Homo sapiens: one gene and its partners. The protein of the gene in region 6 purifies or fractionates together with the protein of the main gene of each other region. This does not show direct contact. Each region holds a gene or a part of one and is shown on either strand. Other genes may lie near its edges. The genes, in order: CCZ1, CASTOR2, RMC1, CCZ1B, MIOS, PLAAT4 and PPP1R9A.

What was found.
Region 1: the proteins of PLAAT4 (region 6) and CCZ1 purify together in Homo sapiens (affinity purification with mass spectrometry, with the first as the bait; one large-scale study listed by BioGRID). This does not show direct contact.
Region 2: the proteins of PLAAT4 (region 6) and CASTOR2 purify together in Homo sapiens (affinity purification with mass spectrometry; one large-scale study listed by BioGRID and IntAct). This does not show direct contact.
Region 3: the proteins of PLAAT4 (region 6) and RMC1 purify together in Homo sapiens (affinity purification with mass spectrometry; one large-scale study listed by BioGRID and IntAct). This does not show direct contact.
Region 4: the proteins of PLAAT4 (region 6) and CCZ1B purify together in Homo sapiens (co-immunoprecipitation; one large-scale study listed by IntAct). This does not show direct contact.
Region 5: the proteins of PLAAT4 (region 6) and MIOS purify together in Homo sapiens (affinity purification with mass spectrometry; one large-scale study listed by BioGRID and IntAct). This does not show direct contact.
Region 7: the proteins of PLAAT4 (region 6) and PPP1R9A purify together in Homo sapiens (affinity purification with mass spectrometry; one large-scale study listed by BioGRID and IntAct). This does not show direct contact.

The regions. Positions count from the first base shown.
Region 1 is NC_000007.14:5,908,733-5,912,232, forward strand, and holds part of CCZ1 (vacuolar fusion protein CCZ1 homolog), read left to right. Parts: intron 1-1,302; coding exon 1,303-1,384; intron 1,385-3,128; coding exon 3,129-3,190; intron 3,191-3,500. UniProt on the Homo sapiens protein: Acts in concert with MON1A, as a guanine exchange factor (GEF) for RAB7, promotes the exchange of GDP to GTP, converting it from an inactive GDP-bound form into an active GTP-bound form.
Region 2 is NC_000007.14:75,027,205-75,030,704, forward strand, and holds part of CASTOR2 (cytosolic arginine sensor for mTORC1 subunit 2), read left to right. Parts: 3' UTR 1-827; coding exon of another isoform or gene 828-875; 3' UTR 876-3,500. UniProt on the Homo sapiens protein: Functions as a negative regulator of the TORC1 signaling pathway through the GATOR complex. As part of homodimers or heterodimers with CASTOR1, directly binds and inhibits the GATOR subcomplex GATOR2 and thereby mTORC1.
Region 3 is NC_000018.10:23,524,011-23,527,510, reverse strand, and holds part of RMC1 (regulator of MON1-CCZ1 complex), read right to left. Parts: intron 3,382-3,500; coding exon 3,337-3,381; intron 3,083-3,336; coding exon 3,029-3,082; intron 875-3,028; coding exon 746-874; intron 1-745. UniProt on the Homo sapiens protein: Component of the CCZ1-MON1 RAB7A guanine exchange factor (GEF). Acts as a positive regulator of CCZ1-MON1A/B function necessary for endosomal/autophagic flux and efficient RAB7A localization.
Region 4 is NC_000007.14:6,819,776-6,823,275, reverse strand, and holds part of CCZ1B (vacuolar fusion protein CCZ1 homolog B), read left to right. Parts: intron 1-911; coding exon 912-995; intron 996-3,334; coding exon 3,335-3,500.
Region 5 is NC_000007.14:7,583,884-7,587,383, reverse strand, and holds part of MIOS (GATOR2 complex protein MIOS), read right to left. Parts: intron 1,749-3,500; coding exon 1,579-1,748; intron 1-1,578. UniProt on the Homo sapiens protein: As a component of the GATOR2 complex, functions as an activator of the amino acid-sensing branch of the mTORC1 signaling pathway. The GATOR2 complex indirectly activates mTORC1 through the inhibition of the GATOR1 subcomplex.
Region 6 is NC_000011.10:63,543,308-63,546,807, forward strand, and holds the end of PLAAT4 (phospholipase A and acyltransferase 4), read left to right. Parts: intron 1-1,313; coding exon 1,314-1,582; intron 1,583-2,841; coding exon 2,842-2,949; 3' UTR 2,950-3,151; downstream 3,152-3,500. UniProt on the Homo sapiens protein: Exhibits both phospholipase A1/2 and acyltransferase activities. Shows phospholipase A1 (PLA1) and A2 (PLA2), catalyzing the calcium-independent release of fatty acids from the sn-1 or sn-2 position of glycerophospholipids.
Region 7 is NC_000007.14:95,271,094-95,274,593, forward strand, and holds part of PPP1R9A (neurabin-1), read left to right. Parts: intron 1-2,805; coding exon 2,806-2,893; intron 2,894-2,991; coding exon 2,992-3,075; intron 3,076-3,500. UniProt on the Homo sapiens protein: Binds to actin filaments (F-actin) and shows cross-linking activity. Binds along the sides of the F-actin. May be involved in neurite formation. Inhibits protein phosphatase 1-alpha activity.

The DNA of each region.
Region 1 (3,500 bases), on a different chromosome or scaffold from region 6:
TTGTCTGTCTCCTTTTAAAAAACCGGTTCCAGAGTCTGATACCTGCTAGTTTCTCTGTGCTTTTTCCATGTGCTGCTCCTTCCTGCCTCATTTCAGATCAGGTGGTTTGCCTGAAAGCTTGTTTTTCTCCTCCTCCTCTTTCTTCACCGAAGATCCGGAGAATTAAAATCCATGTACATTTCTGAGACCTAGGATCACGTTCCCTGTCTACAGCATACCCATATTTTCCCAGGGGACTAGGGGAGAGAATGTGGCATTACCATATAACCCAGGAAGCTAAGAGACATCTGCTCCTAAAATGAAACAGTGTGGCTTTGGAGGTTTCCTGCATAATCCTACACGGAATTCAACCAGCGAGTCCAATCCCTTGTGACTTTTTTTTTTTTTTTATCTCAAATGGCATGTAAAATACAGGACTGTAGGAGTAGCCTTTTGCAGGTCAGGATAAAGTTCCAGTGCCTGGACTCAAGTTTAACCCTTTACCTTCCTTAACTTCGCAGTCAGGTGGTGAGCCTCTTGATATAATGTTAAAGAGAAAAGCACCAGTAGTCCCAGCTACTCAGGAGGCTGAGGTGGGAGGTTCGCTTGAGCCTGGGAATCGGTGGCTGCAGCAAGCTGTGGTCACACCACTGTAATCCAGCCTGGGCGACAGACGAGACTCATCTCTTGAAAAATGAAAAAAGATGAGGCCAGGCACAGTGGCTCACATATGTAATCCCAGCACTTTAGGAGGCTGAGGCGGGAGCACTGCTTGAGTCCAGCAGTTCGAAACCAGCCTGGCAACGTAGCAAGACCCCCATCTCTACATAAAATACAAAAATTAGCTGATGGTGGCGCATGCCTGTAGTCCCAGCTAGTCTGGAGGCTGAGATGGGAGGACCGCTTGAGCCCTGGAGGCCAAGGCTGCAGTGAGCCATGATCGCACCACTGCTTCCAGCCTGGGTGACAGAGCAAGACCTTGTCTCAAAAAAAAAAAGAAAAAAAAATTTTTTTTAATAAAAAATGAGTTTTATCCAGGGCTTCAAATTCTTTGGAAAAGTTTGACAAAGTATACCACGTAAATTCAGATTTACCTCAATGCTAAGAATTATGTTTAGGAAAAAGGAAACTCATTTTGATCTCAGGTACAAAAATAGATTGCTTTGAGTTTTAAGTAGCTTTAGACTTTAAAAAGTTAGAATTTATTCTGTGTTACTAAAAATGACTTGAAAAAAAAATTTTTGTTTAATGAGCTTTATCACAGCAGTGGAAAGACAGAAGACAGTTCCAAACGTTTAACCCAGTGCTTTTCTGTTGTTGCAGGAGTGGATTAGAACAAGATGACATGAGAATTTTATACAAATACCTTACCACCTCCCTTTTTCCAAGGCACATCGAACCTGAGGTATGATGGGTACCATAGCTGCGCACAATTACATGCAGGGGCACAGAGAGGGCAGGTGGAGTGAGATGGTGGTGCATGGGGGCGTTTCTGATCGTTTCTGATGTATGTTTTGTCTTACTGTGATATTTGTGTCACTGTATATCAATTAGCACAGAAAACCACATGCAGCTCTCCTCCAGTATGTGACATTCAGATGTGATACAGAAAGCATCGTTTTGTGTGTCTGTGTGTTGGTTTTTTTGTGTGTGTTTTTGTTTGTTTGGTTTTTGAGACGGAGTCTCGAACTTTCGCCTGGGATGGAGAGGTTCAAGCAATTCTCCTTGCCTCGGCCTCCCAAGTACCTGGGATTACAGGTGCCTGCCACCACGCCCAGCTAATTTTTTTGTATTTTTAGTAGAGACAGGTTTCACTATGTTGGCCAGGCTGGTCTCGAACTCCTGACCTTGTGATCTGCCCACCTTGGCCTCCCAAAGTGCTGGGATTACAGGCGTGAGCCACCGCCCCCAGTCCACAAGCATGTTTTTAAGAGGAGTGAGTCATTGAGTAGAGGAAAATTGGATTTTACTTTACTTTTAATTTATGTATTTTATTTTATTTATTTATTTATTTATTTATTTATTTATTTATTTATTTATTGGGACAGAGTTTTGTTCTTTTCGCCCAGGCTGGAGTGCAGTAGTGCAATCTCAGCTCACTGCAACTTCCGCTTCCTGGATTCAAACAATTCTCCGGCCTCAGGCTCCCGAGTAGCTGAGATTATAGGCACCTGCCACCATGCCCGGCTAATTTTTATATTTTTAGTAGAGACGGAGTTTCACCATGTTGGCCAGGCTGGTCTCGAACTCCTGACCTCAGGTGATTGACCCGCCACAGCCTTCCAAAGTGCTGGGATTACAGGCGTGAGCTACTGCTCCTGGCCAAAAAATTGGATTTTAGATCGGGTTCTAGGAACCTTTAAAATGCCAGTGATCTTTAAAACAATCGACTTGTGTAGTCTTTTCCTCTATCAACAGGAGACCTAATTTTCAGTAGATGTTTTAGTGCCTACCCGGCTTTCCACTCTAGTACTTAATTTCCCGGTTTCCTGCAGAGAACTTTTAAATGATATCACTGTGTTCTCCCCAAAGTATTTTCAGAGCTTAACATACAAAAATCATTTTGGCTCAGTTGAACTCACTCTCTTCGCTTGTTCGTTCCCTCCCTCTTGTCCTCCTGCTTTCCAAGTTTTTTTTTAAGAGACGAGGTCTCACTTTGTTGACTCGCATGGTCTCAAACTCCTGGGCTCAAGCGGTCGTGTCACCTCAGCCTCCCAAGTAGCTGAGACTACAGGTGTGTGCCACCACACCTGGCTAATTTTTTGTAGAGATGGGATCTCGTCATGTTGCCCAGGCTATTCTCAAACTCCTGGGCTCAAGTAATCTGCCTGCCTTGGCCTCCCAAAGTGCTGGGATTATAGGCATGAGCCACCTCACCTGGCCAAAAATTTAAAAACTAGCCAGGTTTGGTCACACATGCCTCTATCAGGAGGCTGAGGTGGGAGGATTGCTTGAGCCTAGGAGTTCAAGGCTGCAGTGAGCCATGATCATGCTGCACGCATTCCAGCCTGGGCAACAGAACAAGATCCTGTCTCTAAAAGAAAAAGACAAATGGCATGGAACCAATTAGTAGATAATGCTGTTTTTCAAAGCTTGGAAAATAAATAAAAAGTCTGATAAGTCATTCTCAACATTAAATGTATTTGCAGTTAGCAGGAAGGGATTCTCCAATAAGAGCAGAAATGCCAGGAAATCTTCAACACTATGGAAGGTAGGACTTCTGTTCTTTGATTTATGATACTGGGTTTTCTTTCTTTTTTGACTCAGAGTCTGGCTCTGTTACCCAGGCTGGAGAGCAGTGGCAAGATCTCCGCTCACTGCAACCTCCGCCTCCCCGGGCTCAAGTGACTGTCATGCCTCAGCCTCCCAAGTAGCTGGAACTACAGGCATGAGCCACTATGCCTGGGTAATTCATTTTGTATTTTTAGTAGAAACAGGGTTTCATCATGTTGGCCAGGCTGGTCTTGAACTCCTGACTTCAAGTGATCCACCTGCCTTGGCCTCCCAAAGTGCTGGGATTA
Region 2 (3,500 bases), on a different chromosome or scaffold from region 6:
AGAACAAAGCCAGCAGCTCAAAGAGCCTGTGACATGGGACGTGGGAAGGGTGCTGAGAGCCCGCTGTGGCGTGGGTCATGCCTTCTGCACCCCACTTTCCCCAGGCAAGATCCCTGGGCGCCCTTATTTGGGGGGATGTTGATCCCGAGGGAGGAGTATTTGGAATTTCTTGCTTTTAACCAGAATGCCCCCTCTCCCCTGCCCTCGCCAGCAGCCTCACCCTGAAGACCTGGGCCTGCTGAATGGGCCACACGCTGCCTGTGTCCTGCCTCCGTGGGTGGCACTTTTTACGCAGGCAGCTTCTCTGTTTTTTTTGTTTTTTGTAACCTGCAAGCTTAGAAATCTCAGGTTGTGCTCCTGGGGCTGCTCCTGGGGACTGGCCTCGTGTCATGGAGAAAAGCATGTGTGTCGGGGCGCGCTGGGGCCAGGGTATGGCTCTCCGCCCTGGCTGGCTCTGCAGGGGTGGTCCCTGTTCAAGCCCGCTCCGTGGGAGCTGCCCCCTGGGGACCCTGCTCCTCGGTCACAGGGGGCCCCTTTAGTTTTCCCATCCCCATCCTGCTCGTGTAAAGCTTGGTTTATCTTCTCGGCGTTCTGTGTGTAGCGTAGTCTTGGTTTGGTCTCCACAGCTCTTCGGGGTGGGGTGTGAGTGTGGTTTTTCCCAGGCAGGGGCCGTCTGCCCTTGTCCCCCAGCTATCTCCTGGTCTGCTGGGTGGGAGGGTCTCTCCAGGCCCCAGACCCCACTTGGAGGGGCATGTGTTTCTCAGAGGGGCTCCATCCGCAGTTGCATGGAACTCCTTACCTGTTTGCCGTCCATCCCCCGGAGGTAATCAGAGGAGTGGGCCTGTTGTCTTGGCGCTGGCGGATGGGGCAGGTGCCTGGCGGGGGAGGAAGAGGGCTCTCTATGATGTGGAATTTTTTTTTTTTTTTTTTTGAGACGGAGTCTTGCTCTGTCGCCCAGGCTGGAGTGCTGTGGCATGATCTCAGCTCACTGCAGCAACCTCCACTTCCTGGGTTCAAGCGAGTCTCCTACATTGGCCTCCCAAGTAGGTGAGATTACAGGCACTCACCACCACACGCGGCTAATTTTTGTATTTTTGGTAGAGACGGGGTTTCACCATGTTGGCCACGCTGGTCTTGAACTCCTGACCTCAAGTGATCCACCCACCTTGGCCTCCCGAAGTGCTGGGATTACAGGCATGAGCCACCGTGCCCGGCCTCATGGAATTTCTAGGGGTGAGCAGGTGACCCTGGGGCTGCCACTTGAGCTCCTGGAGTGTGTGTCTTGGCCCCTGTGTGGTTCTCCATTAAGAAAAGCTCAGATAGTCTCAACCCCACCCTCTCCCCTTGCTGCACTCAGAGTACCAGTGGGAGCTGAAGGATGGGGAGGAACAGAGCAGTGACCACCCCTCCCTGCCACTGATAAGTTCTGCCTCGTCGTGGGGCTCCCCTGGTTCCCAAGACACCCCTTCCTCCCTCAGCCCGTCGTCCTAACCCAGCAAAGATCTGGGCATTGCTGACTCTGCACCTCCTTCCTCCATGGGCATCTCCAGGACCGCCCTCCTTCAAGGGGCACTGCCCACACCACTGTCCTCAGCCCGAGGCATGCATCTGAGCTGGAGAGGCTTGCAGGCCTGACCCTGGTAGCTTCCCCTCCCCAAGATTCAGAGGCGGGGACCCAAAGCCTCACTCCAAACCACTGGCATTCTCACCTCCTCTCACCTCCAGGCACCAGGCTGCTGGTGGGAAAGGAAGGAGCTGGGGGATCAGAGGCTTCCAGTGTGGCCTCCGGAAGCAGCAGCGTAGCCAGGGTGACATTTGTTCAGCAGGAGGAGGCTTGGTCTGGAGGGGCTTGCCCCTCTGAGGTGACAGAGGATGCCCTGGAGGTCAGGAGAGAAGACTGGGAAGACAGGAAGGGCCAGGCCCCTGTTAAAGCCCAGGGCACTATTTGGTGATCTTCAAAGGTGAACACAGGCCACCTCCCACTGGCCCCCTCCTCCTGGCCACATTTTCCAGGGATACCCTGGGGAGTCCTAAGGCCACCCTGGGCCCCTTTCTGAGCCTAGAGATCTGGATGTGGTGACAACCAGGGCTTTTCCCAGCCCCAGCTAAGAGAGGGGGCTTTAGGGCAAGAGCACCTCAGCCCTGCAATGGGGGGATCTTTTTTTTTTTTTTTTTTTGAGACAGGCTGGAGTGCAGTGGTGCGATCTCGGTTCGCTGCAACCTCTGCTTCCCAGGTTCAAGTGATTCTCCTGCCTCAGCCTCCCAAGTAGCTGGGATTACAGGCACCCACCACCACGCTCGGCTAATTTTTGTATTTTTAGTAGAGACAGGGTTTCACTATGTTGGCCAGGCTGTTCTTGAACTCCTGACCTCAGGTGATCCGCCCACCTTGGCCTCCCAAAGTGCTGGGATTACAGGCATGAGATACCCCGCCTGGCCAATGGGATTTTTGACGCCACTTCCTGAGTGAAGCGCTTTGCATGGGGATGGGAAGAAGCACCCCCAACCTTCTAGTCCGCTCCGAGCAGGGCCTGGAGCATTGGAGACATTGGTTAGTGTAATAGGCAGAGCCTGAGTGAGGCCGGGGGGCTTCTCCAACAGAGAAAAGACATTGGCTTTGGGTACCATGCTGAGGGAGGGGGTTAGGCCTGGTGGGGGCCCATTCAAAGGAGGCCGGGCTCGGTGGCTTAGGCCTGTCATCCCAGCACTTTGGGAGACCAAGGTGGGAGGATAGCTTGAGGCCAAGATAGCAAGACCAACCTGGTCAACATAGCAAGACCCTGCCTCTACAAGAAAATAACGAAAGAGGCCCCAGGGAAGGAAGCCAGCCAGGAGCAGCCTGGAGCAGAGGCAGGAGCCTGAGGCCTGAGCCATGGCATCCAGGGACAGCCTGGTGGCCGAGAGAGCTTGTGGCTGTCACTATAAGGGAAGAGGAGCTATGGAAATTGGAAGTGCAGGGTGGCCTGTGTGCTAGGAGTGGGGGTGCAGGCCTAGGTGTGTTTATGCACACGTTTGTGCATGTACCTGTGAGCGTGGATGTGTTCCTATGCATTAGAGTGTGTGCGTGCACGTGTGCAGAGCCCACACCTGAGATATGGGACTGGCTCTTGGAGTATTTTGAGTTCTCAGTAGCAGTCTTGTTGTCAGGCCTTGAGTGCAGAAATGATTAGGTGAGTGAGGGCAGGACTCGAATGCAGACCCTGGCTCCAGGGGAGAGGGTGGGGCGTCTCTGGTAGGACGGCCTCACCCCACTTGTCAGAACTACTCTGGAGGGGGGCAAAGGTGTCAGGAACAGTTTGAGCAGTTCTGGCTCAGGGTCATTCATGAGGTTGCTGTTGTCTGAAATCTTAGCTAAGGATTGGAGGATGCACTTCTAAGTGAGGCCTGGCTGTAGGCAGGAGGCCTCAGTCCTTCCCCAGGTGGGCCAACCCACAGGGCTGCTTGAGTGTCTTCACAATATGGCGCTCGGCTTCCCCCCAGAGCAAGAGATTCAAGGGCCC
Region 3 (3,500 bases), on a different chromosome or scaffold from region 6:
GCTGGGAGTTTGAGACCAGCCTGGGCAACAAGGCAAGACCCCATCTATACCAAAACAAAAACAAACACCAACAGCACATATTGGTAGGGGATTATTATTATTATTTTTTTTTGGATACAGGGTCTTGCTCTGTCGCCCAGGCTGGAGGTACACTGACACAAACGGCTCGCTGCAGCCTCGTCCTCCCGGGCTCAAGGAATCCTCCCTCGGCAGCCTCTGGAGTAGCTGGGGCCACAGGTGTATACCACCAAACTCAGCTAATTTTTTTTTTTTTTTTTTTTTTTTTTGTAGAGACAGGGTTTTGCCATGTTGTCGTCCAGGCTGGTCTCGAACTCCTAGGCTCAGGCAATCCTCCTGCTTCAGCCTCCCAGAGTGCTGGGATTATAAGCATGAGCCACCATGCCTGGCCTCAGTAGGGGATTCTTAAAGAAGACACATATGCAGTGAGTGGCTTGGATTTTGAAAGAGGTGTGTGTGAAGGCCAGGGGTGGTGGCCCACTCCCCTCCTGTGTGCCCACTTTCATTCAGAACCATCCCATTTATTGTTCTTTTCTACCAGTATCTCTACAAATCATCTTTCCATTTAGCAGCCTTTCCTAGGGGGTCACATAGCCACCCCTCACATAAAGAATGAGGCTGTGGGTCACAGACAAGACACAACAATGTAGCCCACATCCCGATAAAAAGTGTTGGGCAGCACAGGCCTCACACTGGAATCAGAGCAAGGGGGAAGGATTCAACTTACTCTGTGAACAGACAGACAGGATGACCATCTTGCATTCCTTTCTCTGGAGGAGAAAGTCCATGAGTCTTCCTTTGTCTGGTAAGAGATTTACTATGGGCTCAAGTTTCACTTGGAGGTTCCAGAGGTAACCTGGATTTTAAGAGGCAGCAAATAAAACAGTATGATGCAAACCGTAACAAAAGCCCAAAAGTGGTTCCCCTAAACATCTGCGGGGCGGGTGGCAGGTGGTGATAAAAAGCCGCAAAGTACAGTCAGTGTAGCTTTTCCTTCCTAACCAAAGCAGAGCTGAGCCATTCAGGAGCAATTCAGGAGCGTGTCTACCACAGGAGGATGACAGCCCAACCACCGCACACCTGGCTGACTCTTTTCCAAGTAACCTCTGCATTCAGGGGCACATCAAAGGTGTAGCTCCTAGTCCTTCATTCCAAACGGGGACTTCCCTAGACCTAGCCCCTCTTTTAACGTTTAAAATAGAAAAAGATGTCAACACGTGGCATCAACTTCAGTCCTGTGCTTTGGTTTCTCCTACAACAGCTCATTAGTTTAAAAGGTAACTCCAGAGGCTCTCAATGGAACATCATAACTCATCCATTCATCGACCCATAAATGTACTGATCACCCACACTGCCAGCATCTGGTGTGGCCTTTCCCAATTGGGATGCCACAGGAGAATGAAGTGCCACATAAAAAATCATCTGGGTGACCCCCTTTTCAGTTGGCCCAAGGCAGGTACAGAGCAGCTGTACAGGAAAACACCAGCGAGATGCACAGGAGAGAAATGACTTCATTACATACATACAGTGGATGTCACATGAGGCTATGGGTTACAGACAAGGCACAACAATGCATTACATACAGTGGATGCCTACAGCATCAGGGCTAATTCTCTCCTCAAGAGTTCTTAGGAATTCCAGAGGAAAGGCAGGAAAATACACAGAGGATTAAAGAGTAACATAGGAGATTCTCTAATAACCAGCCTGGCGAGGTATTAGAGACACAGGGGCAACATGGCAAGACCCTGTCTCTACAAAAAAAAAATTATAGGCCGGCTGTGGTGGCTCACACCTGTAATCCCAGCACTTTGGGAGGCTGAGGTGGGCAGATCACGAGGTCAGGAGATCGAGACCATCCTGGCCAACATGGTGAAACCCCGTATCTACTAAAAATACAAAAATTAGCTGGGTGTGGTGGCGCATGCCTGTAATCCCAGCTACTGGGGAGGCTGAGGCAGGAGAATCGCTTAAACCCAGGAGTTGGAGGTTGCAGTGAGCCGAGATGGCACCACTGCACTCCAGCCTGGTGACAAAGCGAGATTCCGTCTCAAAATAATTATTATTATTATTATAATAAATTAACTGGGCGTGGTGATGTGCGCCTGTAGGCCCAGCTACTTGGGAGGCTGAAGCAGGAGGATCGCCTGAGCCCAGGAGCTCAAGGCTGCAGTAAGCTGAGATAGCACTACTGCACTCCAGGCTGGGTGACGGAGCAAGACCCTGCCTTAAAAAAATAAGATTTCTTTAGGCCGGGCACAGTGGCTCATGCCTGTAATCCCAGCACTTTGGGAGGCCGAGGCAGGCGGATCACCTGAGGTTGGGAGTTTGAGACCAGCCTGACCAACATGGAAAAACCTCGTCTCTACTAAAAATACAAAATTAGCTGGGCGTGGTGGCACATGCCTGTAATCCCAGCTATTCAGGAGGCTGAGGCAGGAGAATCGCTTGAACCCGGGAGGCGGAGGTTGCAGTGAGCCAAGATCACGCCATTGCACTCCAGCCTGGGCAACGAGCAAAACTCCGTCTCAAAAAAAAAAAAAAAAAAAAAAAAGATTTCTCTAATAAAGAGATTACCCAGGAAGAGACAATTAACAGACTGAGGAGGCTTCCTCAGCAAGGCCAGAAAGAGGAGCACACCTCCCGGGCTCATGCAGAACAGAAAAGGGCACGGACACCGGTGGGAAGGTCGATGGGAGAAATGAGGGAGACACCCTGGGGTGGAGTCCGGCTTTCCATCCACCCTGGGGTGGAGTCTGGCTTTTCCAGAATGGGCTTAAGCAGGAGAATGGCATTCTTAGTTGTTGCTTTAATTATTAAAAGTAGTATATGTTCTTGATAAAATGCACATATAGTAAAAAACGTATAAAGTGAAAAAAAAAAATCCCATTCCCACGCTTGAAAGGAGGGGTCATTTCTAAGAGATTCACCTTGAAAACGTCCCTGGCTACAACTGGGATCCAAAGTCAACAAGCACCATGTTGTAACACGACAACTGTCCCCGCTGACCTACCTTGGCTTGCGCTGATAATGATGTCAGGTTGAAAGACAATCCAAGATGAAGAATCCACATGTTATAGGAAATTCTAAACCAGGAAAAGATGAAAACAAAAAGCAAACCCAGTTTCCGCTAGCACTCGCCCCTGCCCACCATGTACTGAGTCCACGCTAAACGCGAGGCCCCTGGACAGTCAGGGAAGCTGCCTGCGGGGTGGCTCTCGGAGTGTTATTCACAGCTGCCCGGAGGAGGACTTCAGGACCACTCTCTGAGGGTGACCACTTGCCCTGTTGTGCACGGTGCCACACCTTAGTAAAGGATACAGAGTTTACATGGAACAGGAGACTGGCTGGTCACGGCAGCAGGACCTACAAATTGAGAAAACATAAGTGCAACGATGCAGTCAGAAAATGCTGCAAATGCTGGTACTTATGACACAAAAGTCAATACTTTTTAATGTCATTACGAAATGTTTATTCAATTGTAG
Region 4 (3,500 bases), on a different chromosome or scaffold from region 6:
ACTTACCCCTATCTCTAGGCTCCAGGGTTGTTTAAAGAGAAGTCTATAAATGACTGCAAAGTGACTCTGTATTTGTCTTAGAGAAGAAAATAATGAGGCCTTTGAAACAGGTAGTGAGGTTTATGCCTACATTTATTCAGTAAGTATTGAACTCCCTTCTCTTTTCTCAGCCTTATAGTAGGAATGTGTCCCCATTGATGAAAAAGTGTATCTATGTGCTCAAGGAACATACAGAATGCAGATAATTTTATGATTTAAAAGTTTCAGTGAGGCAGGGCACAGTGGATCACACCTGTAATTTCAGCATTCTGGGAGGCTAAGGTGGGAGGATTGCTTGAGCCCAGGAATTCAGGACCAGTCTGGGCAATATAGCAAGACCCCATCTCTACAAAAAAATTTTATAAAAGTTAGCCAGGTATCATGGTGCATGCCTGTAGTCCCAGCTACCTGGGAGGCTGAGGTGGGAGGATCGCTCGCACCTTGGAGGTCGAGGCTGCAGTGAACTGTGATTGCACCACTGCACTCTACCCTGGGCAACAGCGAGATTCCATCTCAAAAAAAAAAAAAAAGGATAAAAAGTTTGGTGATTCCATTTATTAACAGAACACTGAAAAATAAAAAAACAGAAATGTGGGTGATATTATGTATGTAAATTGAAACTTAAGGGTAAGTTGAAATTTTTGAAAGATGCCTAGAGCAATTAGGTGGTTTCATAAAACAGCATCACTTAACAGTATTTTTTGTAACTTACATTTTTAACTCAAGTTTTCTCACGTAAATATTCTCTGTTGGAAAGAACTGGGAGATTTAATGAGCTGAATTAATAATCTAAAGGAAAAAAAGAACTTGTTATACTGAAAAAGTGAGCATAGGAAACTGATTTTTTTTTCTGCAATCTTTTACCTCACTAGCTTTTTAATGGTACATTTCTGAAAGCCATGGAAGACGGAGGCGTCAAGCTTCTGAAAGAAAGATTAGAGAAATTCTTCCATCGGGTAAGTATTTTGAATTTCATTTATAACTTTACTAAGCATTCATCAGGTTTTTAGAGAAATATAGACAGACAAGTTTGTTTCTTATCTACAAAAAACCCAGAACTTGAAAGTGGCAAAGAGCCTGAGACAGACCGTCGCAAAACTGGAGCAGCGAGGAAACGCATGAGGCGTGTGCTCTGGAACCTTCCCTCCAGCTGTGGTGTAAGGCAGAGCTTCCTGCGTTTGCCCGGGGCTCTTAAAGGGTCCTGGAGACATCGTTTGGCCTCCCTGTGTTTTACCTGCATCTGTCCTTCTGGGCTTACTCAGCAGCCATCTTTTGTGTGATAGATTAGTTGATAAGGAAAACTTAATTATTGGAGTTGCACAATCTCAGGGATTGGTTCTGTTCACTAAACGGGCGTAAACTGTCTTGATGTAGGTAAGAGTTATTGGCCTTGACAGACTTTGTCAGATTAGCGATTGGGGAGATTTGTTCCAAGTGCTGTCCTCTTTCGTTGTAATTGAATTTTGCATGTTTCACCCTACCTTGTCAAGCTCAGTTTATCTTTTTTTTTAAAAGGAAACAAAGAGACAGGGTCTTGTCTTGGCTGTTTTGCCCAGGCTGGTTTCAAGCGATCTTCCCTCCTTGGCCTCCCAAAGTGCTGGGGTTAAAGGCGTGAGCCAACTCGCCTAGCCTAGTTTATCTTGAAGCAACAATTCTCAATTTATTTTCTTCTGAAAATACCTTCTGTATCTATTTTTGAATTCGACTTTCTAAAACAGCTTTCATAGCTATTTTTGAATTTTTTTGTTTCTCTGAATTACTTTTCTTTGTTGTTTTGTCATTTTAATGACCACAATTATCCACTCGCATATTATCTCCTGGTTTCTGTTCTTGTCCTCATTTCTCTCTTACCCGTCAACATATGGATAGAACTGTTGTCCTGAGTACATATCATTTAGACATGATTTTAGTATAAGATGGCACTCTTGGCTGGGTGTGGTGGCTTACGCCTGTAATCCCAGCACTTTGGGAGGCCGAGGCGGGCAGATCTTGAGGTCATGAGTTCGAGACCAGCCTGGCCAACATGGTGAAACCTCGTCTCTACTAAAAAATACCAAAAAACTAGCTGGGCGTGGTGGCGCACGCCTGTAATCCCAGCTATTCTGGAGGCTGAGGCAGGAGAATCGCTTGAACCCCAGAGGCAGAGGTTGCAGTGAGCCGAGATCGCACCGCTGCACTCCAGCCTGGGTGACAGACCAAGACTCCATCTCGGGGGGGAAATAAAGATGGCACTCTCTGTAGTATTAATGGATAGATCCCTCATTAGGTTAGTCTAATTTGAAGAGCATTAAGGCAGGGAGTTAATTTTTTTTTTTTTTTTTGAGACAGAGTCTTACTCTTGTCACCCAGGCTAGAGTGCAATGGTGTGATCTTGGCTCACTGCAACCTTAGTCTCCCAAGTTCAAGTGATTCTCCTGTCTCAGCCTCCTGAATAGTTGGGATTACAGGCTACCACGCCCGGCTAATGTTGTAATTTTATTAGAGACGGGGTTTTGCCATGTTGGCGAGGCTGGTCTCAAACTCCTGACCTCAAGTGATGTGCCCGCCTTGGCCTCCCAAAGGGCTGGGATTACAGGCGCGAGCCGCTGTGCCTGGCCAGGAATTAAATACTTGAAAGTGCTAGCTGGGCACAGTGGCTCATGCCTGTATTCCCAGCGCTTTGGGATGCCTAGACACGAGAATCACGGAGGCCAGAAGTTCAAGACCAGCCTAGGCAACATAGCAAGACTCTGTCTATACCAAAAAAAAAAAAAAATTTTTGGCCAGGCGTGGTGGCTCACACCTCTAATCCCAGCACTTTGGGAGGCTGAGGCAGGCAGATCACGAGTCAGGAGATTGAGACCATCCTGGCTAACATGGTGAAACCCTGTCTCTACTAAAAATGGAAAAAAATAGCTGGGCATGGTGGCAGGCGCCTGTAGTCCCAGCTGCTCAGGAGGCTGAGGCAGGAGAATGGTGTGAACCTGGAAGGCGGAGCTTGCAGTAAGCTGAGATCGCACCACTGCACTCCAGCCTGGATGACAGAGCAAGACTCTGTCACAAAAAAATAAATTTAAAGCAGTAAAACACAATACTGAATAAACATTAAGTAGATAGTTTGAACTTTGTATCTTGGAATTGGTACTGAGTTGACACTCAGTCACCCATGTCTTCACCACGGCCTCATTGTTGTGCTGTTTGCTAGTATGTAATTGTACCATAAATGTGAGTCTGACATAAGATTATTTTCAGTTATCAAGGAGCATTATATTCAGTGTACTATTAGTAAATTTTATGCCTTATTTTTTTTCCACAGTATTTGCAAACGCTACATTTGCAGTCATGTGACCTACTTGACATTTTTGGTGGAATCAGCTTCTTCCCGTTGGATAAAATGACTTATTTGAAAATCCAGTCCTTTATTAATAGAATGGAGGAAAGCCTGAATATAGTCAAATACACTGCTTTTCTCTATAACGATC
Region 5 (3,500 bases), on a different chromosome or scaffold from region 6:
TTCGTACTCAAGATGACTGTTATCTAATAACTCAAATTTATGTATAGCAAAACAAGGATACTGGGGCAGGGCATGGCGGCTCACATCTGTAATCCCAGCACTTTGGGAGGCCAAGTCAGGTGGATCATTCAAGATCAGGAGTTCGAGACCAGAATTGATATTTCTGGCCAACATGAGGAAACCCCGTCTCTACTAAAAATACAAAAATTAGCCGGCATGGTGGTGCATGCCTGCAGTCTCAGCTACTTGGGAGGCTGAGGCACAAGAATCACTTAAACCCAGGAGGTGGAGGTTGCAGTGAGCTGCCATTGCACCACTGCACTCCAGTATGGGTACAGAGCAAGACACTGTCTCAAAAACAACAACAACAACAACAAAAAAAAAAAAAAAAAAAAGGGAAAGAAAAGTACTTATTATGGGTCACTTAACTTAAAATGCAGAAATTTAATATTTAAACAATATACATCTTTTATCAATTCAGAAGTTAACAATCCACTTGTTTATCTAGTCTCTATCATTCTCTAACACTTCGTGAAAGCATTATTTTATCTCTCCAAGATACATTTAAAGTCTTCTGTTTAACAAAAAAGATTAATTACAGTTAAAAAATAAAGTCCTAACATTATACGTATTAATTTGAATTGGTCAGAAAAAGTTCAATAGTAATTTATTAAAAGTAATAAAGTACATAAAGTGCAAAATACACATTTATTAAACATTTCATTAAGCTGCTCCAATAAAATACATATTTTTACAAATTCTTAGGGACTAATCCTTAAATCACTTATTCAAGAAATGTATAATTGATAAGAAATGGTACAGTAGCAAACACAGAAATGAATTTCAGTGTAGAAAGTTCTTCCCACTGCTAGAAAGAAGCCAAGTAGTGCAAAGAAAGTTGTAGTACTATTGTTTAGCTTAAAACCCAATAGCTAAAACTGGTAAGCAAATCTCACTTCATTCTTTCTTTCCCCGTTTTGTGATAAAGAACCTATTTGATTGTGTTATGATCACAGGTGGTTAAAACAGAAGAGAAAAAGAATAACACAAAGACCAAATAAAAAGCTGAAATAGTCCACTGTAAGTACTGTTATCATTCCTAACAGGAACCACAAAGACTAACTGGGACAAGATGTATGGCCACCTCCACCATAACTGATCAATAATCGTGAGTTGTTTTATTTAACTACACACACACACACACACACACACACACACACACACACACGTGCATGTGTGCACAGTGTAAACAGCGAATATATTTTTATGTTTACACAGCTGTAGATTTCTACAGCTCAGTTCTTAAGCTAAAGGATAAAATCTTTATTCCTTCTATATCTGTAAATTATATTAAAACCATAAAAATCAAATCCAGTTTGGTATCAGTTAACTAACTCTAGGACGGGAATCACACTCAAGAAGAGCTGCTCAAAAAAAAAGCCCAAGATGCCTTATTTTAAATAACATATGCATAAAAATATAATATTTTATGCAACAGACATTTGAAAATTTTAATAAAGTTAGATAAAAACTCCTATCTTAATTCAAAGGAAGATCTTAAAAAACAAGTTAGCTTACCAAAACTCCATCGTAAGATCCTGTTTCACTTGTCAGAAATGCAAACATGACACACAAATACGGGTTATTTAGCTGTAATCGCAGTGTGCTACACATTTCTCTCCAAAGGGAGTTCTTCTCATCCGTATAACCCGATAAAGCCATTGCTACCACATTGAGATTCAGATCTCCTGCATATTAAAAACAGCCAGCTAATCAAAGTGATCAAAAGCTTAATATCTCTTCTACATTTCTTAAACCATAAATAGAAATCAGAGGGTGACTTTTACCCTCAGAAAAATGAGCTCAGAGAATAAGGGTTTTGGGCTGCTCTGCCTATGGAGTAGCCATTCTTTTATTCCTTTACTTTCTTAATAAAGTTGCACTTTACTCTTGAAAAAAAAAAAAAAGGGGGGGGTTTGGGTTTTGATTCAGACTGGAAAATTTGGCAAAGACAATAAGCAAAACATTTCTACCCTTATAAAACTCATGCCCATGTGTGCAAACTCTGTGCAGGGAAGCAGATCTTTTACTTTTCAAGTTCTCAATCCAGGCAGGGTCTTATATAAGTTATTCCTGTGTATGTTCCCATATATGTATGTTATTGCTTACTAAATGAAGAAAAGTGAAGTCATCCTACCAGAATCACTGTCAACTTTAACAAGTTTATTAATGTAAAGGTATTTCAAAAACACTTATAGTAAATATTGCATCTCAAGACTGCAATATTCAAAATCATTTTATTTTCCTATTCCTAAATATATAATGCAGACACTTATGTATATAAGTGTCAATGCAAAGTGCAGAAAGTAATATTTCAATACTTTAATTACAGTATTACACTTACAATTTTTCCAGGACAAAATGAACTACAAGAATTACCACAGAACTGCATTTAGACCCATTTGCAAGAAAGCATTTGTTACCAATAGTCTTTTAAACATTTGTTCTTAGCAGTTTAGATGCATGCTGATAAGCTGCTAACTTTGCCTTCAGCAGTATGGCTGCCTAGTCTTCTAACCGAAGTTCAGCTTCAAAAGAAAAAACTGAATTTTCCTTTAACTTTGACTTTTAAGTATTTTCTACACTTATTATATAAGTTTTCTTAATCTATTTCTTGATTCTAATCTTTTTCTTTCTTTTCCAAATAAAGCAGTGTTTCCCACTTTATGTTCTTAACAGCTTTATATTCCTCATTTCTATAAACACTTTCCCAAGTTACTTTGTGCTTGCTTCCTTTGCCTAATACATTAGATTTAAGGTCTTTTAAAATAAAAATAAAAATAGCAAAGAAGTATCTTTGGATTTTGTATAGAACAATTTACTTCTAAATGGAAAAGAATGTTTGACTCAGAGAAGTCTTCTCTTCAGTCCTTAAAATCACTGGAAAGATACATTTTCCCTATTGTTAGTATGGGTGTTTAAATCGACCACCAAATTTCCCAGGTACACAAGATAGGAAAGTATCACCCTTTCAAGTTATAGCAAAATTATAATTAGAAATGGCTTTAAATATCAATTCTTTTTTCCATCATCACCTATTTTCTATTGCACTCTTAAATGAGGGAGACTTTTGTTAGAGCAAAGGTGAAGGAAAAGATGCCAATCTGAGCAAAACATTGACTTTTTTAACTTTTAGACTACAAAAAAAATTACAGTGAATTTCATGTTTTTCTCTATGCTACAGCTAAACTATAATGGTTTCAAAATGGACCAGCAAGTAAGGATTCAGTATTCTGAATATTCAAAAATTATTTTTTAGGTGTACTAAAGACCAATAGCTATATATATTTTAGTTATTTCCAAGCGAAATATTCCTGATAAGAAAAAAACCCCTGAGGTTTTGTATTAGGATTTGTTTTTCCGAGGATCCTCTGGCAAAATGCCAGAGTAAAAAAACCTTATCTCTTTCTTTTTAAAAAATACTAAATGAAAACTGTATT
Region 6 (3,500 bases):
CATTAGATTCTCATAGGAGTGCAAACCCCATTGGGAACTGCACATGCAAGGGATCAGGCTCACTGCAGTCTTGACCTCCCCGAGTTCAGGCCAGGTGATCCTCCCACATCAGCCTTCTGAATAGCTGAGACGAGATGATAGGCGTGTGCCACCACGCGCAGCTAATTTTTGTATTTTTTGTAGAGACAGGTCTCGCCATGTTGTCCAGGCTGGTCTCGAACTCCTGAGCTCAAGTGGTCCACCTGTTTAGGCCTCCCAAAGTGCTGGGATTACAGGCATGAGCCACTGCGCCCAGCCAACAGGATTTTCTTAAGAGGGTTCTAAATGCAAACATCAGCCTTGAGATTAGAAACGGGGCAAAAGAGGTAACACACCTAATTATTGTGTGCATTAGGTACTATCCATTTTAATAAAAATAAGATAACACCTGGAGTCACTATATAATGGAATTGGGGCTCCATTGGTTGACAGCTCTTCTGTGTTCCTCTCTATGTGCCTAGAACTGTGCCAGATTGTAGGACAGAAGACACTTTACAAAGGATTCCCTCAGGGTCAGCCCAGTGCAGTGGAAGGAGCCTGCCCTTTGGGGCTTAAGAGAAGCAGTTTCACATCCTGATTCTAGGACTTTTCATAGCACAGAAAAGTCTCATGATGTCTCTCAGCCCAATATTGGTTTTTAAATTGAGATGATAATATTTTCCTTGAAAGTTAAAAAGGAGATTAAATTAGGAAGTATGTGTAACAGCACAGCATGGTAACTGAAACAGTGGGTACTAAACGAATTGGATCTTTTTCCGAAACACAAGTGTACAAAGCTGAACAGGTAATAAATATGCTTTACCATCATTGTTTATAATGATGAAAATTTTTCCAATACCTAAATGACGGATAACAGGGGATTGGCCACAGAAGTGATGTACATGCATAGCATGGAATATGGCAGCAGCCACTGGCAATCATGACATTCACTGACTTGAACGAACATTCACACCTTATTTTATTAAAAAAAGAGAGCAAAATCTATTAGCCCGGCGTGGTGGTGGGTGCCTGTAGTCCCAGCTACTCGGGAGGGTGAGGCAGGAGAATGGCGTGTACCCAGGAGATGGAGCTTGCAGTGAGCTGAGATCGCGTCACTGCACTCCAGCCTGGGCAACAGAGTGAGACTCCATCAAAATAAAAAAAAAAAGCAAAATCTGTGAATCCTTCAATCACATTTGTGAAAGGATAAACACCAGTAGTTCCTTAGTGGAGATTTCAAGCCCTTCTCTCCCTACTTCACCTTCCCCTGCCAGTGAGAGTGCCTCTGATTGCAGGTGAGTACCCCGGGGCTGGCTCCTCCAGTGTCTTCTCAGTCCTGAGCAACAGTGCAGAGGTGAAACGGGAGCGCCTGGAAGATGTGGTGGGAGGCTGTTGCTATCGGGTCAACAACAGCTTGGACCATGAGTACCAACCACGGCCCGTGGAGGTGATCATCAGTTCTGCGAAGGAGATGGTTGGTCAGAAGATGAAGTACAGTATTGTGAGCAGGAACTGTGAGCACTTTGTCACCCAGCTGAGATATGGCAAGTCCCGCTGTAAACAGGTAAGGACCTCTCTGGATAATCCATCTCCCTCTGCTTGGGGCTGGACTCACGGGGCTGTGCAGCCAGGCGATCACTGTGAATGATGCAAATGCAGCCTCTTAGAGACCTGCTGGCTGAGAGTCAGGACCTCTGAGCTCCAATGCCAGATCTGCTTCTAATCCACAGAGGGTCTTTGGACAGTTCCCTTCCCCCCAGGCCTCTCCATGTGCAGAGGAGGGGGTGGATGGAGGAGCTCTGAGGATCCTTCCCCTCTAAAACCTATCCTGAAAATGGCTCCTGAAGTTCTGGGGGTCATCAGGAGAATCTGGGCCAACCCAGGACAATGACAGGTCCTGCAACCCCCCAAAGAGTACTCAGGCAAGGGACGCTCAGGGTCCGTGGACCTGTGTAAGAGCTCAAGGACATTTGTGTGTAAGATCTGGGCACAGCCTCCATCCCTTGCCCCTTCACAGTCTTTCACATTTGTTGCCCCAAAACACTCAACTAATAAGTGGCAGAACCGGGATTTGAACCCCAGCTGTCCCTTTCTAGAGTCTCTGCCTGTGATGCCTACTCAGGGCCCCTGGCCTGCGTGACTGAATGGTTGGGGGCCCTTGATGAGAGAGGGATGGTGGCAGGAGTAGAGGCTTTGCGGAGGGAAATCCAGAGTTTGGCGTGGCATGTGATGTCTGAGGTGCCCCATTAGAGGCCCAGGTGGAGATAAGGCATGGAGTTTAGGCTGAAGTACAGCTGGAGATGGAAGTTTCCAGGCTGCAGTTGGGAATAGTACACAGTGACCCCAGGGCACGCATATGGCCATGGCCTCCCTAAGTCTCCCCTCAGCTTCTGCCACAGCCCTCCCTGTGCAAAGGTGTAGCTCAGGGAGGACCCAGACTGCAAAATAGTCCCCAGTCTGGCCCCTGGAGCTCTGACCCTAGGAAGCGAGGCACAAACCTTCTTCCTTGCCCCAAATCAGAACAAATGTCCTCACTTGGAAGCTCTCTCAAAAGGACCTCATGGGCCCATTCTCAGGACAAGCCCAGACAAGTCGAACACCAAGAAGTGGTCACAGCCCAGAAAATGGAGTCCCTGGGGATACAACCAACGGCTTCTCTGGGAGAGGATTCTGAGCCAGCCAGCTGGGAGAGAAGAGAGGAGATGCCAGGCCTTAGGGGAGGCAGGAGAGAGGGGAGAGGGAGAGGAGTTCCAGGCCCTTGGGAGGGAGAAAGTGCCAGCCTGGCTTGCCGTGAACGCTCAACAAAAGCTGCTTGCTTTGCAGGTGGAAAAGGCCAAGGTTGAAGTCGGTGTGGCCACGGCGCTTGGAATCCTGGTTGTTGCTGGATGCTCTTTTGCGATTAGGAGATACCAAAAAAAAGCGACAGCCTGAAGCAGCCACAAAATCCTGTGTTAGAAGCAGCTGTGGGGGTCCCAGTGGAGATGAGCCTCCCCCATGCCTCCAGCAGCCTGACCCTCGTGCCCTGTCTCAGGCGTTCTCTAGATCCTTTCCTCTGTTTCCCTCTCTCGCTGGCAAAAGTATGATCTAATTGAAACAAGACTGAAGGATCAATAAACAGCCATCTGCCCCTTCAGAAAGGACTTCTACCATGTTTTTATAGACTTCTGAATCACAAAGGAGGAAGGTAACATTGAGTGAACACTCACTGGGTAGTTCCAGCAATTTCTAGCCGGGTGACTTTAGAGAAGGCTCTTGATTCTCAGAACCTCAGTTCTTCCATGTCAGGTGATGTCAGGAGGATCACCTACGATAATGCATACACGACACCCAGCACTATGTCTGATATGTAACAGATGTTCAAGGAATTGTCTTCATCATTCTACACAGACATAACAGCGACATAATTGCATGTCATTAATTTTACTCTCAGGGAGGCGAAAAAAACCTAATTACCTTCCGGTATCGTCTCATGTGGTGCTTAA
Region 7 (3,500 bases), on a different chromosome or scaffold from region 6:
CAGGCACATATCATATGATTTAAAGGTACAAGGCTATCCCAGCCTGGCTGTAGCAGTTTGCTTATGCAGGGTGGAGTAGTTACACACAAAAGTGAGCCAGTAGGTTAAGTATATAGCTTTAGAAGTTAAACATCTTAGATAACTTGCCATATTACTAGGAAACCACAAGAAGTTTGACCAGAGGAATAAAAAGGAAAAGACACCACCAGGTATGGAGAAGCTGAGTTAGGAGACCCTATGAGGTGGTGCCCTCTAAAGAGGAGCAGTAGACAGTGACAGGAAAGAATGATTCAAGGACCCTTGAGACATACCTTGACTAGGTAACAGGTAAGAAAGTGAGGCAAAACTATCATGGGCTTCACGCCTCAGAACATATGGTCTTGTCATTAACAGAAAATAGGAAATCAGCAACATGATGGGGGAAATAGGATTAACTCATTTTTTTAACAGAGGAGGTCATGAGCGCAAGAGAGAGGTCAGGACTGCCAGGTAGATTTGGGAGTCCCCATTATAAAGGAAGAGATAGTCAAGTATCTTATTACAGTGAGATTAAGGAGATGCAGTCCAGTACAAGACCTTAGGATTTGGCCATCAGGAGATCATTTATTATTTGAAAATGAAAACCAGGTTGCCACAGCTTAAAGTTGAGGCACCCAATCTGGGGGCTCAGATGTATAATTGGTCACAAAGGTAGTATTGGAGAGATTTTAAAAAGCCTAACAGAAGTCTTACGTAGAGCTAAATAAACAAAATGTATGTTTCTTTTTTCCTGAAATCATACCAATCTAATGTTGGATTTTATGCAGACTAGAAGTTCTAGTGTGCATTAAAGATGGATTTAATCGATTTTAAATGGGAAAGTACATTATTCCTTATTCTTAACATCTTCAGCCCTATGGAAGCATTCATTTCAGTGTTCCTGGGAACGCACTTTGGCAAATGTGTGAGATAAAGATGTAAGGTTGCCTAGCACCAAGCTCTGTGATAGGCAGAATCAGGCTTTTAGTCGCATGATGTCCAAATAACTGCAACACTCATGGGTTACAGAGTGTTTTCGTGTACATTGCCTCAGCTGGTCTTCTCAGCGCTCATTGTAACATCTCCCAGCTACCTCTCATTCAGGAAATAATTAGGCAGTCTCCTTTTAACTTTGCATAGTCCTAGCCATTAAGAGTTGCTTTAGGATTGATCTGGAAGAATTTGGCACTTTCTTTTCTTCAGCTTCTATTAAGAAAATTTAAATCTTGCTTTTAAAAATAAAATCCATTAGTAAAATCACCTTAGAAGGTGTTTGTGCCATGTCTATGTCTATGGATTTTTTTATATGATTGTGTCACATCTGTGACAATTCAGTTACCCAAAGAGTAATGATGCAAATATGCATAATAAATATTTGAGGCTTGAAGTGGATTTTTGACACAGACATATTTCTGACTCTTGTGTTTCATTATGTACATTTCAGTGAGTTGCTTATTGTAATCTAAGTATCATTAACTAAAAATATGAAAAGCTCATTGCTAAAAACATTTGGAGTATTTGTCAGTGTCCTGTGCTGCTTGAGAGCTTTGAACCTAGACTGCTATCCATGAACTGTGTGTGTACTTCATGTTTTTTAAAGGTGTATGTCGATGTGTGTTGAGAAATTTCTCTTGAAGTAAACAAAAATCATGAGCAACATTAACCTGCAAAGTTAATTGAACACTTTTTTAAGAGGGCCATTCTCTTTGCCTTCCATACTAGAAAGTTCCTAGAAATTTAAAACACATTTTAAAAGATAAGAGACAGAAAAACAGATACCAAAAAAGAACTGGGGAGGAAGAGTTTCACACATAAAAAACATCAAATTTAAAACAGCATTTGTTAATCATCTGAGCTAATTGGATATGCTGAAACGTGATGCCGATCAGTACCCTCTGCTGAATAGTTTGGGTAGAGCCTGTCCGAGATGGAACAAGTGCCACCAGTGGAATTGGTTCCCACCTTGACATTGAACTCCATTTGCAAAGCCTGTCTTCCTATTGGCTTTTGGTATCATTTCGAGGGTCCCCATTCCCCAGCAGCTGCTACCTTTGAGAGTCCTAGAGGCAAAGATCAGTCTGCTCTGAACACTGAGGAGATTTTGGCATCTTCCACATTAAGGGGAACCAGCCAAGTTTTGCTGTAACCTAACTATTAAGAAGGCCCTTTCAAAGATATAAATGTTTTGTAGCTGAGCCCCTGTTTAAGGAGTCTCCCCCATGTCCTCCCCTCCTCTGTTCCAGGACCGGCCACAGGCCATTAGCAAAGGAGAGCCAGAGAAGAAAACTTTGACTCTGACTTTCCCCCTAAATCTCCCAGACTCTCAGAGGTGATATTCTGCGCTGGGCTTTGGAGATACGGGAGAAGTGGGCTATGTTCCTGTTAGAAGGCACTACAACCCCAAGGCAAGAAAGGAATGGAGGACAGAGCCCAGGCACTTGAAGCCAAGAATTTGGAGCCAGAGAAGGAACAAAAGTCATGTTGGTCCCTACTTCGAATGCAGAGGATGATTTGAGAGTATTTATTCTCCCTTGTTCATTCCCATGCAGTTGAAGCTAAAACTCTTTGTGATGAATGTTGAGCCTCTGTCCTATAGAGGACCTCCCCTGCTTAACTGCGAGTTCCTCAATGTAACTGTGTCTCCTAGGTCGTATAAGAAGGCATTGATTATTTATTTTACAATTAGGAATTTAGGCAAAGCCCTTAGATTCAGAGATGCATTGACTTTTGAATTGTGACTTTAAAAATAATAATAATTGATCTTTTTCACAAATGTGTATATCCTAGATGATGCCAAAGATCCCAAATCACTAAGGGCATCCAGTTCATTGGCGGTGCAAGGAGGAAAAATTAAGCGGAAGTTTGTGGATCTGGGGTAAGCACTTCACGATGTAAAAAGAAAGCCCTCTGTAAAAGGAGGATTGAAAGAGAAAATTTCAGCTTCCCCTTTCTGACTGCTTACTATCATTACAGGGCGCCTTTGCGAAGGAATTCCAGCAAGGGAAAGAAGTGGAAAGAAAAAGAAAAAGAAGCCAGTAGGTTTTCTGCAGGTAGCAGGTACGGTTGTGTGATTAAGAACACGTGTATTTCTATACCTAAACTTTCTGGCCCCCTCTTCTATTGTTAACCAAAATCAGTGGTCAGTATCTTTGAGCTAAAGTGATATGCCAAGAATTGAGATGGAAGAAAAATTGCACAATTAGTTTATATTGGTCTTACTCCAATTATAGCCTCCATCTAGCCTTGGGCATATCCATTGGTTCTTAATTGCAGAATTATGGCCACATGAACCATTTCAATAAGTGTTTATCTAAATTCAGCACAAATATATCTATGTGATACTTCAGAAATATCAAATATATTTATGTGATACTTCAGATTTTTTGCCTGGCTACCCACAATGCTAGTGCATTGTATTAAGTCTAAAAGGATAATCATTTTGCATTTAAGTACCTTGTTGACATTCAAGATTGTCTTGTCCA